2 separate regions of the Homo sapiens genome follow, and region 1 is linked to region 2. The links come from fine-mapping of genetic effects on gene expression. Tissue or cell type: monocytes. Region 2 holds a variant in brackets; the other region holds the start of a gene. All regions are shown on one strand. Distances are from middle to middle.

The links. PIP is the estimated chance that this variant, and not a neighbour inherited with it, causes the effect.
Region 1: NCS1 starts here. The variant in region 2 is fine-mapped to the expression of NCS1 in monocytes (Quach 2016, PIP 0.95).

Annotation. Positions count from the first base shown.
Region 1 is chr9:130,168,258-130,176,432 of GRCh38, reverse strand. It overlaps NCS1 (neuronal calcium sensor 1), which reads right to left and starts at 4,029. Exons shown (of 8, transcript NM_014286.4): 1 at 3,706-4,029. The coding sequence starts at 3,769. RefSeq lists enhancers at 1,755-2,665, 4,127-4,915 and a silencer at 3,963-4,052.
Region 2 is chr9:130,131,125-130,139,299 of GRCh38, reverse strand. It overlaps GPR107 (G protein-coupled receptor 107), which reads right to left. Exons shown (of 18, transcript NM_020960.5): 18 at 1-4,275. The coding sequence ends at 4,179. Among named protein-coding and RNA genes, the nearest start is that of GPRACR, 9.0 kb to the left of the region's middle. The variant CACCTGTT/T (reference allele first, on the strand shown) is at 3,674.

The DNA.
Region 1 (8,175 bases), 37 kb before region 2:
CTTGAGGCCAAGAGTTTGAGACCAGCCCAGGCAAAAGGGCAAGACCCTAACTCTACAAAAAAAATGTTTTTAATTAGCCAGGTGTGGTGTTGTACACCCATGGTCCCAGCTACTGGGGAGGCTGAGGCAGGAGGATTGCTTGGACCCAGGAGGTCAAGGTTTAAGTGAGCCATGATTGCACCATTGCACTCCAGTCAGGGCAACACAGCCAGACCCTGTCTCCAAAAAAAAAAAAAAAGAAAGAAAGAAAGAAAGAAAGAAAGAAAGAAAGAAAGAAAGAAAGAAAGAAAGAAAATGAACAAATAAGCATTAATTACGATCACTGGCATTTACTGACCACATACCCCACGCCACATATCAGGCCCCACACTGCACATGAGTTACCCTGTTGACTTCTCACATCCTCTGAGTTCAGGTGCCATGAGCACACCTATTTTGCAGATGAGGAAACTGAGGCTCAGGTAGGTGAGGGGACCGGCCCATCCCACAGCCGGGACACACGGGGAAGCCAACAGCCTCACCAGCAGGTTGGAAGAGAGTGGGCCAGACCTGAAAGAAACTGGGCCGCCCGCAATGCTGACTGCCACTGTCTAAGTCTTGGCTGCAGAGTGACCCTGTCCATCTCTCCCTAACCTGTTGCTGGTGGAAGGCTGAGGACTGGGTTAGGGTTTGAGCCAGGTGGAATCCCAGTGTGTCCAGTGAGGGCCACACTGCTGGGGCCTTTAGACACTCCTGCTTCCTCACACACACAGACCACCACAGACAGAGCCAGAGACGCCCACCAAGGACACTGCCCAGCACCGACTCGGACGTGGACCCATGGCTCCCCTCTAGGCCCCCTTGGCACTGTGGCCAGCTATGCATGAGGTGGGCTAGGACCCCCAGCATACACTGGAACTGTGGTCTTCAATCCGGGCTCCCCAGGACCACCATCTGCAGCACAAACACGTGTCAAGGATGCAAATTCCTGGGCCCCAGCCAGACCTAAAGAATCGGAAATCCGGGAGGGCAGCCCAGGTACCTTCATGTTTATTAATCAACCAGGAGATTCTGACATTTGAGAGTCCTTCCTGGGGCGCTTCTCTTGACCCCATACACAGAATCCCCCAGAACAAAGAGCAGATGGCTCCACTCCCCATCAGAAGGAAGCCCATCTGGGGGCGGGAGAACAAGCTGGAAGCTTTCTCTGCTTGTCCTGTTGGGAGACTTTTCATTCTGTGAACCTACTAAAGGCCAACACATGGGGGGAACACAGCTGTGAGCTCCACACACAAGGGCCTGCACTAGGGAGCTGACGTCAGCGCGGGAGGCAGACAGGAGGCCAATGAACCCACCGCCACCTCCAACGGCCCACCCCTAATAAGGGCTTCGACAGAGGAAAAGTACCCAGGCCAACTCTCTCTCTGCCCAAAACTGTTCCACGTCTCCAAAGGCCTTTAAAAATAGCCCAGCCCAGCACCACAAGGGCCAGTTCCTAACAAAGCTTTGTTGACTCAACTTCTCTTAAAGTTGACAGATCTGCCCGGAGGAGGGGGCCGGACAGGACTATCACCCCAGGCCCTTCCCATTTAGAATCCACCATCATGGGCTTCTAGCAAAAGCCAGAAAAAGACACCCAGCAGAGCTTTTTTTTTTTTTTTTTGGAGACAGAGTTTCCCTCTTGGAGCAATCTCACCTCACCGCAACCTCCGCCTCCCAGGTTCAAGCGATTCTCCTGCCTCAGCCTCCCGAGTAGCTGGGATTACAGGCATGTGCCACCATGCCCAGCTAATTTTGTATTTTTAGTAGAGATGGGGGTTTCTCCACGTTGGTCAGGCTGGTCCACCCGCCTCGGCCTCCCAAAGTGCTGGGATTACAGGCGTGAGCCACTGTGCCTGGCCCAGAAGAGCTCTTGGCACGAGCTCTGAAGTCTCTCACTAGCCTTGGAGCAGGACAGACCGGAGTTCAAGTCCTGGCACTGCCTGGTCACTAGCTGTGGGATCATGGGAATGCCACTTTGCCCCTCTGAGCCTTAGTTTCCCCATCTGTAAATGGAGATCGTAGCAGCACCCAGCCTGGTAGAGCAGTTGTGGCAGAGTCGAGGTGCTAATGATGCCAAGAGCTTGGCACGTGACATGCTCGATGAGCAGGAAACCTGGCTTCACTCCCCTGTCCCACCATGATGGAGGCATCCCGTGCAGCCCATGCCCACCACTCCTGATGGAGCCCACGGTGTCCTCACCCTCCCCCGGCACAGGGACCCAGGAAGTCCACCTGCTGGCGGCTGTGGGCCACATCTGGACTTAGCTTGAAGGAGTCCCCAGCGAATCTCACAAAACAGCAGCCAGACTGGAATGGGCCACCCACCTGCCCACCTTGGAGAGAGGGTGAGAACAGCCCCTGTGCCCAGGGGCTTCACCCCTTCCAGGTAGCAGCTCTTGGGATGTGAGCTCCATGCTGCAGGATTCCACAGGAGAAGGGCCAGCACCTCGCAGCAGACTAGCACCCGCTCAGGAAAGCCCCCTTTGTTCCAAGCATGAGGGGTGAGGGGCATGGAGCTGAAGCGTGGGCTTGGACAGACCTGCAGACGTGCCCAGAAGGCCGATGGAGTGGGGGGAAGCGGGGAGCAGAGGTTGTGCAATGCACCACCAGGAGCTGCCTCCCCAGCCTCCATCAACACATGGGGCTGGCGGTCAAGCTGCTGCCTCCAGGGGTGGTGCAGAGGGCCTGGGCCCACGCAGCTGCCCGGGGATGGGTTCTGAATTCCAACCCAAGCCCAGAACCACTGTCCCCTTCCAAGTCAAACACCCAGGCAGAGGTCCTTCCAGACCCCGATGCTGAAGCCTTCCCTCTGGCAATCCCCTGGGTGGTCTGGACCCATTACCATTAACCCCTGGTATGCCAGGGCACCTCCGGAGAGGCTGCAGGGAAGGGGGAAGCCTGGTATGGAGAAACTAGGACTGCAAGGGGACTGCAGAGTTGTGAAGTTAGGCAAGTGGAGGGAGACACACTGAGGCTGATCTGGAGACGCCCAGAAAGGACAGGCCATCCTCCTCCGGGCAGCCCGCGACAGCTAATGATCACACGCGGCCCAGATGACCCGGGCTGTAGAAACCCACTTCCCGGTGTGGCAGACAGAGATGGGGCCAGGGAGAATCCAGCCTGTAAGTGCTGCAACCCACAGGGTGCCGGGGACCCTTCACCGCCGTCACCGCACGACGAGCGCTGTGCCAAGTCTCGCCACCCCCCCCCCCACACGAACGGGGCCAGGGAGGGGGCGACAGGCCAATCTCGCAGCAGCGGCGGCGGCGGCATCGTGATGCATGAATCACCAGCCCCGCGCGCTCGTGCCAGTCGGCTCCGCGCAGCCGGGCGCCCCCTCCCGGGACCACCGCCCCACCCTGGCAACAGCCCCTGCCCGTTGGGACAGCTCTGCGGAGAGGGGGCCGCCAGGGGGCTGGGGCTGCCCCTCCGGACCTAGGGGTGGCGCCGCGCACGCCGACCGGCGCGCACTCCCCGGGCTGGGGGTGCCAGAACAATGGGGCCGGGCGGGGGGCAGGGGCGCGGCCCGGGAACCTCCGAGGGGTCCACATTGGAGGCCGGGCGGGGAGGACGGAGCGGAGGCGGCAGCGCGGAGCGGGTAGCGCGCGGGTCCGGGGGGCGGGGGCGGGGGCGGTGGGTGTGGGGGTGACCGCGGGGCGCGGGCTGGGGGCTGGGAGCACTCACAGTAGGTCTTCCTGGTCAGCTCCTCCACAACTTCGGGCTTCAACTTGCTGTTGGATTTCCCCATCCTCGGCGGCCGCGGCCCCCGCCCCCCCGGGCCGGACCCGGTTGGGGCGCCCAGCAGGAGCGGCTGGGCCGGGCGGGCCGGGCCGGGGCCGCGCCTTTGTCTGCGGCGCCCGCGCTGCGCTGCGCGGCTGTCGGCGCCGGGGCGCCCGGGGCGTGGGGCGGCCGCTGGGCAGGCCCGGGCGGTCCGGGCGCCGCGGCGCGGGGCTGCCTGGGCTGGGCGCCGGCGCCGGCGCGGTGTGGCCGCGGTCGTCCCTGGTTACTGGGCTCCGCGGCACATGCTCGCTGCTGCCTCCCGCCTGCCGCCGCCCCTGCGCTCCCCGCCTCCCGCCTCCCCCCTCCCGCCCGCACCCGCGCGCCAGGGGTGGACCCGGAGCCGCCACTCAGCGCCCGGCGCCACCTCCCGCCCCGCACCCGCCTGGCCGCGGCCTCCGCCAGCTGGACCCCGGCCTCGCCAGCCAGCCGGAGGGGCGTCCCCTCGGCTCAACGCGGCCCCAGGGCGGGGCAGCCACCCCCGCCACCCCCTCCCCGAATCCAGCCCTGGCGCTCCGGCCCCCGCCGCGGCGGGGAGGGCCCGGAAGATCGGATGTGAATGAGGCCAGGTCCCGGCCCGGAGACATTCATTCATTCGACACGGATTCATGGGGTGCCGGGGACACGGCGGCCCACGGGACAGGAGTGCCCCAGCCCTCGCAGGGCGGGCAGGGGGCTGTGCGGGATGCGGCAGGTAGCGGTGGGAGCACCTACTCTCGGCCTGGGGGCAGGAGACCTCCAAACCCAGGGTCAGGAAGGGAGGTGGATGGAGAAGCGTTCTGGCCCAGGCAACCTGGAGAGGCGGGGAGGCCTGCATGCCCGAGGGAGAGTTCCCCGGCTTGCGGGCTTGCGCACGGCTGCAGGCACAGGGGACCTGGGAGAAGGGCAGGGCCCACGGGGCAGGCCAGGAGAGGCCCCTCGCCGAGGAGCTGGGCCCCTGCCCACCAGCGCCCATGAAAGGACTTCAGCAGAGAGTGATGGGTCAGAGCTGCTGGAGTGACAGGTCAGAGCTGCTCAGAGCTGTTTCTCTGAGCCGAGGCTGGGGTGACAGGCTCCACCTGAATGGACAGAGGCCAGTGGATTCGCGTAGGGGGGTGTGGTTCAGGTGGTAGGTCCAGCATGGCCTTCCCGGTCCACCTCATCCAACATATCATCATATCTTGAGAACTCTCCTATCCTTTTCGGCTTTAGTTTCTCTCCTTCACATCCATCACAAACGTCACCTATGTTTTCTGCATCCTGTTTGTCTCTTCCATGGGAGAACACCCTCCCAGAGGGCAGAGGCATCTCCATAACCCAGAAGGCCGCCTGAGGTGTTACCCAGCAAATCTCTGTGAATGAGCGAAGGACGGAGGAAAGAATGACACCCGGTGCTGGGGCCCTGGGGTAGGGGAGAGAGCGGGGAGGATGAGGCAGCCCTCCCCGGGGCTAGCAGGGATGAGGCAGGAGTGGGGTCTCTTTCTCCCTTCTTTCCACAGTGTTCTAACCTCGGAGGGTCCAGAAAGCTCAGAGGAACCCTGAGCAGGGCCGAGTGCCTTCCAGCTCCCAAATATCTCTCCTGCCTCTAAGCATACTCCATCCACTCCTGCTTTCCCCTGAAGCCCCTGCCCAGGCTGAGCCCCAGGCCCCAGGAAGTCTTCAGATGGGGATGGACTTGCTGGCTTGGGGAGCTCATTCTGCAGAGGAGGTGGGCCCAGTTGGAGGGATCTGGTGTAGACCTGGGAGCAGAATGTCCCAACCTTGAGGACCAACTCAGAGTGGACAGCAGTGAGGGGCCCACAGTGGGGGGCTAACAGTTGACCAGACTGTGCTGAGCATCCTGCCTGGGAGGAGGGAGAGCCAGCACGGGAACCAGGGCCTGGCTGGATGACAGCAGTAGTAGTTAAAGCCCTTTAGAAACCCAGGTGCTCAGGCTGGGTGCAGTGGCTCATGCTGGTAATCCCAGCACTTTGAGAGGCTGAGGTGGAAGGATTACTTGAGCTTAGGAGTTCAAGACCAGCCTGACAGGGGAGACCTCATCTCTACAAAAATTTTTAAAAGTTAGCTGGGCTTGGTGACACATGCCTAACTCCCCGTTACTCGGGTGGCTGAAGTGGAAGGATCACTTGAACCCAGCAGGGCGAGGCTGCAGTGAGCCGTCATTGTGCCACTGCATTCCAGCCTGGGTGACAGAGAAAGACCCTGACTCTCTCTCTCTCTCTCTCTCTCACACACACACACACACACAAACACACACACATGAAAAGAGAAGAGAAAAAAAGAAAGAGAAAGGAAGGAAGGAAGGAGGGAAGGAAGGGAGGGAGGGAGGGAAGGCAGGCCAGGCATGGTGGCTCATGCCTATAATCACAGCACTTTGGGAGGACAAGGCAGGTGGATGGCTCGAGCTCAGGAGTTCAAGACCAGCCTGGGCAACATGGTGAAACCCCATTCCTACAAAAAATACAAAAAAAAATTAACTGGGCATGGTGGCACATGCCTGTAGTCTCAGCTACTCGGGAGGCTGAGGCAGGAGGATTGTTTGAGCCTAGGAGGTAGAGGCTGAAGTAAGCCCTGTTGGCACCACTGTACTCCAGCCTAGGTGATGAGACCCTGTCTCAACACACACACACACACACTCACACACTCACATGCATTCACACACACACACAAGAAACCCAGGTACTCATCCTGTGAGTATTTCTTGCTCACTGCCCCTGTGCCAGGTGCCGTGCTGGGCACTGAGACCAACATGGGAGCTCACGGATCTGACCCGACCTGCTGCACAGCGATCACAAAATCACACTGGCAACAAACACCATGCAAGGAATGGAGAGGGTGGGGGAACATACATGGGAACACCTGCCAAGGAACTCAGGGACTTCACAGATTCATCCCATCATTCGGGACATGTTTACTAAGCACCTACTATGTGCCCTGGGGACATAGACCAGATCCCTGCCATCAGGGACCTTACACTTTCGTGAGGGGAGAGTGCTATAAACAATAAACAACATGCATAAGTGCAGCATAGAAACCAGAAACACGGGGGCGCAGTGGCTCATGCCTGTAATCCCAGCACTTTGGGAGGCCAAGGCGGGCGGATCACGAGGTCAGGAGTTCAAGACCAGCCTGGCCAACATAATGAAACCCCGTCTCTACTAAAAATACAAAAATTAGCCGGGCATGGTGGTGCACGCCTGTAGTCCCAGCTACTTGGGAGGCTGAGACAGGAGAATCACTTGAACCTGGGAGGCAGAGGTTGTGGTGAGCTGAGATCGCACCACTGCATTCCAGCCTGAGTGACAGAGCAAGACTTTGTCTGAAAGAAAGAAAGAAAGAAGGAAAGAAGGAAGGAAGGAAGGAAGGAAGGAAGGAAGGAAGGAAGGAAGGAAGGAAAAGAAAAGAAAAAAGAAACCATAAATACGCTGCATGAGTAGAATGTATCTCACAGGTGAAAGAAGAAAAATGAGGCGGGAAGGAAAATGGGAAGGGCTGAGGGCCGGAGGTGTGTGGTGTTGGCTAGAGAAGGAGCCTCACTGAGAGCAGAGGGGGAGCATCGCCCAGGCCCCGTGGCAGAGCCCAGGTGGAGCCCAGCTGGCCCACGTACAGCCTTGTGTGTGGCCTTGCAGGGGTACAGTAAGGTGGGCTTTAAAGGGCGAGGTGCAGAGTGGGGAGGCAAGGTCAGACTCCCGACTCAAGGGATCTGATGTGCTTAGCCGGCCCCTTCAGCTGCTGCTGCAGGGAGAACTGACTCCAGGCACAGATGGGTAAGAATGGGGAACTGCCAGAGGTCACTGTATCATCAGCCAGGAGGTGGTGGTGGCCACGTGTAGTGTGGCCTTGGAGGACACAGAACTGGCTAGACTCGGTGACATTTTGAGGGTAGTGAGAGCAGGATTCCCTCACTGCTGTCTCCTCTGAGTTGGTCTTCAAGGTTGGGAGACATTCTGCTCCCAAGTCTACACCAGATCCCTCCAGCTGAGGCCCATCCTACCTCCTCTGCAGAATGAGCTCCTCCAGGCCAGCAAGTCCATCCCCATCTGAAGACTTCCTGGGGCCCGGGGGTCAGCCTGGGCAGGGGCTTCAGGGGAAAGCAGGAGTGGATGGAGTATGCTTAGAGGCAGGAGAGACATTTGGGGCTGGAAGGCAGGAGAGACATTTGGGGGCTGGAAGGCAGGAGAGACATTTGGGGGCTGGAAGGTATGAGACGGAGAGAGGGGACTCAAGGACAAGGCCGGGCTTTCTGAGCTGAGCTTATGGAAGAGTGGGGTTTCTATTTGCTAAGATGGGGAGTGGACAGGTTTGGACAGGAAGAGCTGGAATCTTACTGCAGACAGGTGAGGTGTGAAATGCTTACCAGATGTCCAAGTGGTGACGGGAGAAAGCAGGTGGCACAGG
Region 2 (8,175 bases):
TGGAGTGAAGAGCGGGTCTTTCAGAACATTTGGTACTTTCTGGATGAATATCTTTTTGATATACCAAGAGGCATCAAGTCAAAGTCTCACTTCTATAGCGAGGAAGCCATTAACTTGCTGAATCCTAAAGGGAAGAATCAAGCCGCAGGCCACAGGCATCCTGGACTTAGCTTACGTGAGTCTTACAAGGCCAGGGGCGGGTCAGAGAAAAGCAGCGGGGTGAAGTGTGGAGTGTGGAAGCAGGGGTGCAGCAGTGTGCTAGATCTGTTTCCTTTGAAGTACAGCAGCTTGGCAGCATGAAGCATGAGTTGTTCCACTGTTCTACTGGGTGTATGGAGCTGGGCCAACAACCTCAGCAGACTATCTAATGTTCTAAGAGCCTTCCTCAAAGAAAATGTTTCAGGACGGGGGAGAAGGCCAGAATGCATCTGCAATTCCAACAGGCATCGCTATGCTCTTCCTTGGTCTGTAAGGACTGGATGCCTGGAGTAGACTGTTTTAAGTACCAAAACAAGACACCCATTTTAGTGTGGAGGAAGACCAGCCTATATGGCCCAGAGCAATAATATTTGGCATGAGTATGCCACTCTTGAGAAAATTCTCCTTAGCTTAGAAAATGCATCTTTCACACAGCTGCTGGGAGAAAACGCTGCAATGCACCAAAGCCTTTAGCCGGTGTACCCAGAATGAGCCTATGTGGGATCAATAGGCACGGGGAGAAAGATGGCAGAGAAGGGAAGAGGAGGGAGGAGGAGGGAAGGAGGAGGAGAAAGAGGTGGAGGAGGGAGGAGGAGCGGAAGGGGAAGGGGGAGGGGTAAGGGCGAGGGCAGAGGAGGAGGGGGAGGGGATGGGGAAGGGGGAAGGGCGAGGGCAGAGGAGGAGAGAAGAGGGAGGGAGGCTGTGGAATGAGACAGCAGAGATGGCGATGAGGTCATCACGCAGGAGGAAATCTCACCCACACGAGGTGGACTTACAGGGCTGTGTGCTGCCTGGGCAGGCTGGACATGTCCAGGGCGGGGAAACCCTGGATATTTCACTCTGAAGTGGTTTCTTGAAAGAAAACTCAACTGACTCAGGCCATGAGCATCTTTTACACTGAAGCAAGCATCTCCTCACAAGTGCCTCCTACAAGTCACTAGAGTCATATTCAACATTACAAAATGCAGTGCTACTTAAATTTTAAAGCACTGAGGGACCAAGAAATGGGCTGATCAAGTCCTTGGCCACTCACTGTTAAGAGCCAGGATTTACAGATCAATGACTGTTCCTATTGTCCAAGAAATAATTTTCTAGCAAAGCATACACACTTTATTAAATTTCACAGCCAGCAGCGCTTTCAGTCCACAACAGATTTCTCAGAGGAAACATGGATATTTTGCGTAGGCAGAAACAGTGAGGAGTACAAAGCAAAGCTATAAATACCACCAATGGTTCTGCTATGTGCATCCGATATTTTTTGCCCGATCTGAAATACTGCAAGGGCTTAACCATTCAAACACCGCATGACAACGAACCCAGTGGACTGTGAAACTCAGGCTGCAGGAGGGTGGCTTGTCAGCTGGTGAAGCCACTTGGCTTTGGACTCCATCGGTCATCTTTACGCAAGAGCAGAGATGAACGGTGGGTCACGGCTATGACGTGAAGGAGAAAGAGAAGACACACTCACAGAACAGGATGGAGAGCTTCAATAATTTTTTAAAAGCTTGGAACCACCACCTGCTTTCCCAATCTTGGGCTGGGGTTTTGACTTTTCTTGATCATCAATCTGACTTGAAGCCTTTTACCAGTTACAATACAGACATGGCCAGATGACCTGCTTGTTAGGAAGGCTGTGGCCATCTTTGTTTCTGAAACAGTCTTATCTCATCTGTCCACTGCTGCTCTGGAAGGGTCAGGACCAGCACTGCAGACACTCGGCCATGCTGTGAGTGAGCCCAGACATACGCGTGGAATCTGAACACCCAACGCTGGCGTTCCCGTGCCAGTCTGAGGGCTGCGGCTCCAGCGCTTGTCCACACACACGCCTGCCTCTCTCTAGTTCCTCCACTGCCTGGCTTCCTCGCTTGCAAAACCCAGCATGTGAAATGAGGACACCTCCACGGAGACCCTTCCGAGCAGGGAGGTTTCATCACACCTTTCGTTCTTGCCAAGGAGTCTATCGCCTCATCCACAACATCTGCTTGCGGGAGAAACAGCAAATGTGTCCCTCTGAGGGAAGGACTGAGGAGGGCTTTGGTAGTCACAGATTGAGACACATTTCTGCGAAAACTGGTATTATGTTTCTGCACAGGAAAACAAAGTGTTAAAAATATTCCCATCCTCCCTCCAACTCCCTTCTGTCACACAGTCCCAAGTGAACTTGAAAAAGGTCCAGAAGTGAACACTTAGGGTGCATTTACCTTTCTCCTGAAGATGGGAAGACACACGGATGCTTGCCTAAAATATCTGCCGAGAGGTGAGCAGCTGTGGCCTGGGAAGGCGCTTGCTCTTCCTCCACATCAGCCAGAAGGCAGATCACACCTTCAGAGCACCCTACAGAACCCAGATGGCGAATCAAAGTGCAGAAAAAGAACACCCGCTTCCTCATTAGTCATTTAGGAAGATAAGATAGCATGGGACAGGGAGAACAACCATGTTCTGAATGGAGACTTTTTCAGGTTCCCAAACTTGGGACAGTGAGTGTGACCCCACATCCTGTGGTTTCTGCCTGACCCTTCTAAGCCAGAGGTGAGAAAACAACTCCCAGAGACCACGACTCTCACCCTCGGAGGTACCTGTTCCCCTGCAGGTGTGGCTCTCTGACAACCCCTAGGCAGGGGTGGGCTCCAGCTTTTGGAAGCAACCCTACCTAGCTGGCCCCCCAAGCATTAAGAAGCTTCCCTGATGGGGCCATGTTTTGGTCTCCTTTTAAGCCCTCAGTCACAATGTACCTTCTGAGCTTGTCCTACTATTCAGATGATTTTCTCTCTGAGTTGCAATACTGCTCAATTTAGGTGGCTACCTGTGTTCATTCAAGCTCTGGAAGTGTGGAAGGGAACTTAATCATTGAGTTTCTGTGAAGTATTTTGCCATCCTAAAATCCCTGAGAGTGAAACTGTTGAATCATGCTCACTTTCTTCACATACATACTCTTGGACTATGGGGACCAAGTCTGTTGAATTCATCTATTTAGAAATCCTACTAGCCTACAGGAAAAGCTTTTTAATGGGGATGATTTGCTTGGACTTAAGTATTTGCTTAAATACTACCTATTCTGCCCCCAGCTGCTCCTTGAGGAAAACTTTCCATTTCCCCCAAAATTCTGATCAAACACAACAAAGCCACAAGCATGAAGGGAAGCCAGACAGTGCTGCTCTGGGCTGTCAGGGAGTGGATGTCCAGGCAACGCCACAGGATAATGCTTTTTGAACTTAAAAATACATTTCTTTCCATCCATCAGGCAACATCTCAGTCAGAAAACCACCTCCCACCACCTGTGCTGTGCCACAGGGCATGATCCTGACAGCGACATCACAGCCTTCTTTTCCTGTTGGAAAGAAGACCACTGGGCCTCAGGAGCTGCTGTCCTGGTCACTCTCAGCATCTGGAATAAGGGTCTGGGGCAAAGCCGAGGGCAGGAATCCTGGGGCAGGTGCTACATCCTAAACTGGGTTTTGACTTTGCTTTCCAAAGT[CACCTGTT/T]TTCGTTCATTTTTGTCTCCCAAACAGGCAATGGCACTCTCCCCGCCCTTCTTCTTAAGTCCCAGGGTCCTCAGTAGACATTTCCTAAAGCATCAGACAGACACCTCGCACCCTCCTTCCCCCTCCACCAGCCGTCCTTGCTACACTTCCCCACACATGGGGTCACAACTGCATACACCTTAGAGCTCCGAAATGAAGAAGAAAAAAAGAAACCTAAATTAAAAATGAATTCTTCCTTTTCTCTTCCTCTCCTCCTCCCTGTGCCCGCCCTCCCATTCCCGCCTGAAAGAGGATCCAGCTGCCTCTAAACAGCCACAGATCGTTTCCATAAAAGAGAGTACAAAATCAGGTTTCCGCGGCACTGTGCTCCAGCCATGTGCCCTGGTGTCACTGTCGGTGGTGCCAATAGTTCACTGTAGGAGCTGCTCCTGCTGTCCAATAGGACTATGAATAAGTTAACAGTTTCCTTGGACAGTGCCATCCTCAGGGTCGGCTCTGTCACACGGCGCCTTCCCACTCGCCCTGGGGCTCCACGGAGCCGTTGGTCACCTTCTTGACTTTCTTCATACTTTCCATCACCCCAGATGTTGTCACACTGAACAAGGAAAGAAAAAACAATTAGGAACATCTCACAGTCTCTTAGTAAAAGGCCATCTCTGCCACAGCACGGTGATTAGGACTGATGATGGGTGTTGGTTTTTGAAACAGACAAAATCTAAGTGTGATTCCTGGTTCGTTCCTTACTAGCTGTGTAACCTTGGCCAAGTCACTTGAACTCTCTGTGCTTAAGTAATTCTCACTTTCCAGAACTGTCATGAGGAAAAATGAGATTCTCCAGAGTGCCTAATCAATAAACACCAGCTATCGTTATCACAATCATCATGAATCTTTTTGTCACAGCTTGCGGAATTTTTGTGGCGCACAGATATGTGATAGTTACGCTTATGAGACTGAAATCTGACTCTTAATGGACATTCAGAAAAGAAAGCTAATTAGCCAACCAGACATTTTTAATAAGCAGCCACAATGGATCATTTCTGAGCCAGGGGACAGAACCACAGGTTTAGAGGAACCTTCCAGGATCAAAGATTCTTTGGCCACTATAGACAGAGAACTGGCTGCTTTCTGCTAGCTGGGGCTGGGCCATGTGGCTGTGCCTCAGCGCATGGCCTCTGCCTCCACTCTGTGAGCTCCCGGGGCTCTGTCTGTTGGTGCCTGGCTCTGAGGAGGCCCCATGGAGCCATTCGTTGAAATCAAGGATTAAAAATGGAAGATCGCTGGTCTCGCAGGGCATGAGGAGCTGAGCAAGGCAGCCCTTTCCATTAGAAGGAATCACATGCACGGGCCCCACCTTCTCAAGAGGATAATCTCTTGCCTCACAGAAGGTGAGCTGGTCTATGAGGGAACTGGGTGGCTCTGTGAGTAGCAGAACTAGGCAGAGATACTGGGTGTCAAAAGCCGCTTGGCCCAGCATCTTCCCTGCAAGCGAGGAAACAATGAGGATTTATGCTCCCCCATGGTGGACCAAAAGAAATTTCCTCATCAGTAAAATAAATTCAATCAATCAACTCAACAGGCTCTTTCCAAGGACCCAACCCATCCCTCTGCCAACTACCTAACCCCTTCCCCTACAAATGGCAACACAGTGGCCGTATATGTGACCCATCTAGAGTGCATGCAGCTGGACCTCATGGTAAGTAAATGTTTGTATGGGGTAAGGGAAGAAAACTTCCCCCTCTTCTTCATCTCTTCATTCTTGCCATTATGGTGCTACCATGCCCAGGCTCAAAGAATCCCCCAAGCCGGAACCTTTCTCAAACGAGTCCTTTAGACTCACAGGTTATTTGTACTTATGGCAAAGTTGGGACAAGGTATGTGGCCAGATCCCATAGATGCTATAAGTGACTCTAAAAGCATCCCCTAAGACGAAAATGCCTCAGCTGAAGCCGCCCAGCGTCACTTCTGGCCAGCTGGCTTGTGTCTCAGGCCTGGCCTCTTTAGGAAGACACTTGCCCCAGGAGGGATCCATGTGCACAGGGCTGCTCCTGAAGGGACCTTCTCTAGACGGGGATGCAGGAGGTAGGGCCTTTGCATGAGCCAGAGAAGCCCCTGCCCCGAGCCACGTAGCAGCCCCCGTGCCTCTCCACAGTGACTGAGACCACAAAGAAATGCGACCCCACGTCTTCCAGAAACACTCCAGTAATCACACAGCTGTCCTATGGTTACTGCATCTTGTTAAAAAAGGACAAAGAGTTCAATGCACGTTGATTCTAAGAGGCAAAGCGCATTCACTGTGACCCGGATATGGGCCTGACGGCAGACTTGGGAAAAACATTTTCTCCCTTTCTTTCTCTAAGAAAATACTCCTTTCCACATGGTGGGCCAAGTGAGAAAACAACTTTTATTCTTCAAGACAGGCCTCATGCTAGGTCATCAAGGAAAAAGAAGTGGTCTTATTGCTCTTCGGAGCCCACAGCCCAGGAGAAGAGATGGTCTTCCACAGCAACCCTGCAAAGCCACTTCCAACAGAGACAGGAGTGCTGGGAACCGGGTTCGGTGATGGCTCGGGCTGAGAAGAATCCCTCTGCCGGGGAATCGGGGAAGCCAGGAAGCCCGTCATGAGATGCAGAGGATCTGGCCCACAAGATGGGTGGGAGGTCAGGGGAGTTTCCAAAAAGAAGAAATATAACAGGCAAAAAGCATGAAGGAAAAACCCAGGACATTTCCCAGGGCAGTGAGGGAGTGCTAAGTACTTGCAGTGTGTGGATTGTATATGTGTATATATATATAAATATATAAAAATATATATATATTTTTTTTTTATTTGATTTTTTGAGATGAAGTCTCGCTCTGTCACCCAGGCTGGAGTGCAGTGGCGCCATCTCGACTCACTGCAACCTCCGTCTCCTGGGTTCAAGTGATTCTCGTGCCTCAACCTCCCAAGTACCTGGATTATAGGTACATGTCCCCATGCCCAGCTAACTTTTGTATTTTTGGTAGAGATGTGGTTTCACCATGTTGGCGAGACTGGTCTCAAACTCCTGACCTCAGGTGATCCACCTGCCTCGGCCTCCCAAAGTGCTGGGATTACAGGCGTGAGCCACTGCACCTGGCCTACGGCAAATATATTTTAATACATCCAGCCAGTCTGGGAAGGAGAGTGGCAGGGAGAGAACCAGGGTGGACACAGGACGGCAGGGTTGTCGAGGGCCCAGTCTGCCTGGTCACCCAAGGATGGCCTTGATTCCTACTCTGGCAGTTCTCAGCCCTGCCTCCTGCTCAGGCTGCCCTGGGGAGTGAGAAAAGCACAGATCCTGAGCCCAAGGGGTGAGAATCAGAGTCTCCAGGGGTGCGGCCAGGAAACTGGCACTGCAAAAACACTCTACAGGTGATTCTAGAGCCCGGGAGAATGGACAGGAAGGGCTGGGCACACCTGTATTCCCAGGGCAGCTCACGCCTGCATTCCCAGCACTTTGGGCGGCTGAGGCGGGAGGACTGCTTAAGCCCAGCAATTTGAGACCAGCCTGGGCAACATGGCAAAACCCTATCTCTACAAAAAAATACAAAAACATTAGCTGGGCATGGTGGCATTCATCTGTGGTCCCAGCTATTAAGGAGGCTGAGGTGAAAGGATTGCCTGAGCCCGGGGAGCTCAAGCCTGCAGTGAGCTGTGATAGTGCCACTGCACTCCAGCCTGGGTGACAGAGTGAGACCCTGTCTGCAGGGGAATAGAAGGATGGACAGGAAGGGGAGAGGATCGGGAGTGAAGAGGTCAGCCACCACAAAGCCCAGGCACGAGAGCAAGAGGCGGGGTGGGGCTGGGGGTGAGAGGCACAAAGTAAGGCCTACAGGACGCTCTGCACGGGCTGAGGAAGAGGGACGTGGTTCAGCCATGGCTGCAGGAGACTGGGTGGATGTCCGTGTCACCAAGGCCTATAGGGAACAATGGGGAGGGGCGAGCTTGGTGTGATGCAGGAAGACTGTGGCTTCAAGGCTGAGGTGACGCGGAGCAGGAGGACAGGGGGACCTGGCATTCAGGAGGGGCCGGGGGCAGTGAGGGGGTAGCAGGGGCAACCCTGGGCTTGGGTGAGTCCTGGGAGTGCGAAGAGGGAGAACGGGAGTAAGGGTGTGTGGTAGCGCAGGAGGTTGTCACAGGCAGGGCGGGTGACAGGGAGCTTCAGTGTGTGGCCAGGACTGGGAGTGGCAGAAGTGAACTCAAGGAGAGGAAGAAACCTGATGGCAGATGCCCAGGGTGGGGTAGGCGCTACATCCTGTTCCCCCAGCAAACCTCTGGGAAGCTGAAGGGACACCTGGGGCCCCCACGATGTGAGGAAACCTGGCTAGCCCCCTGCAGACAGGGCGCCCGCAACGGTCCTGGAAGCTCAGGCTCTGCAGCAGTGAGAAGAGAGACCTGGGTCAGATGAACACCCAAAAGCCTCCCTGGCAGGAACATACGGCGGTGGGGCTTCAGCAGCTTCGCAGCCACCTCACTAGG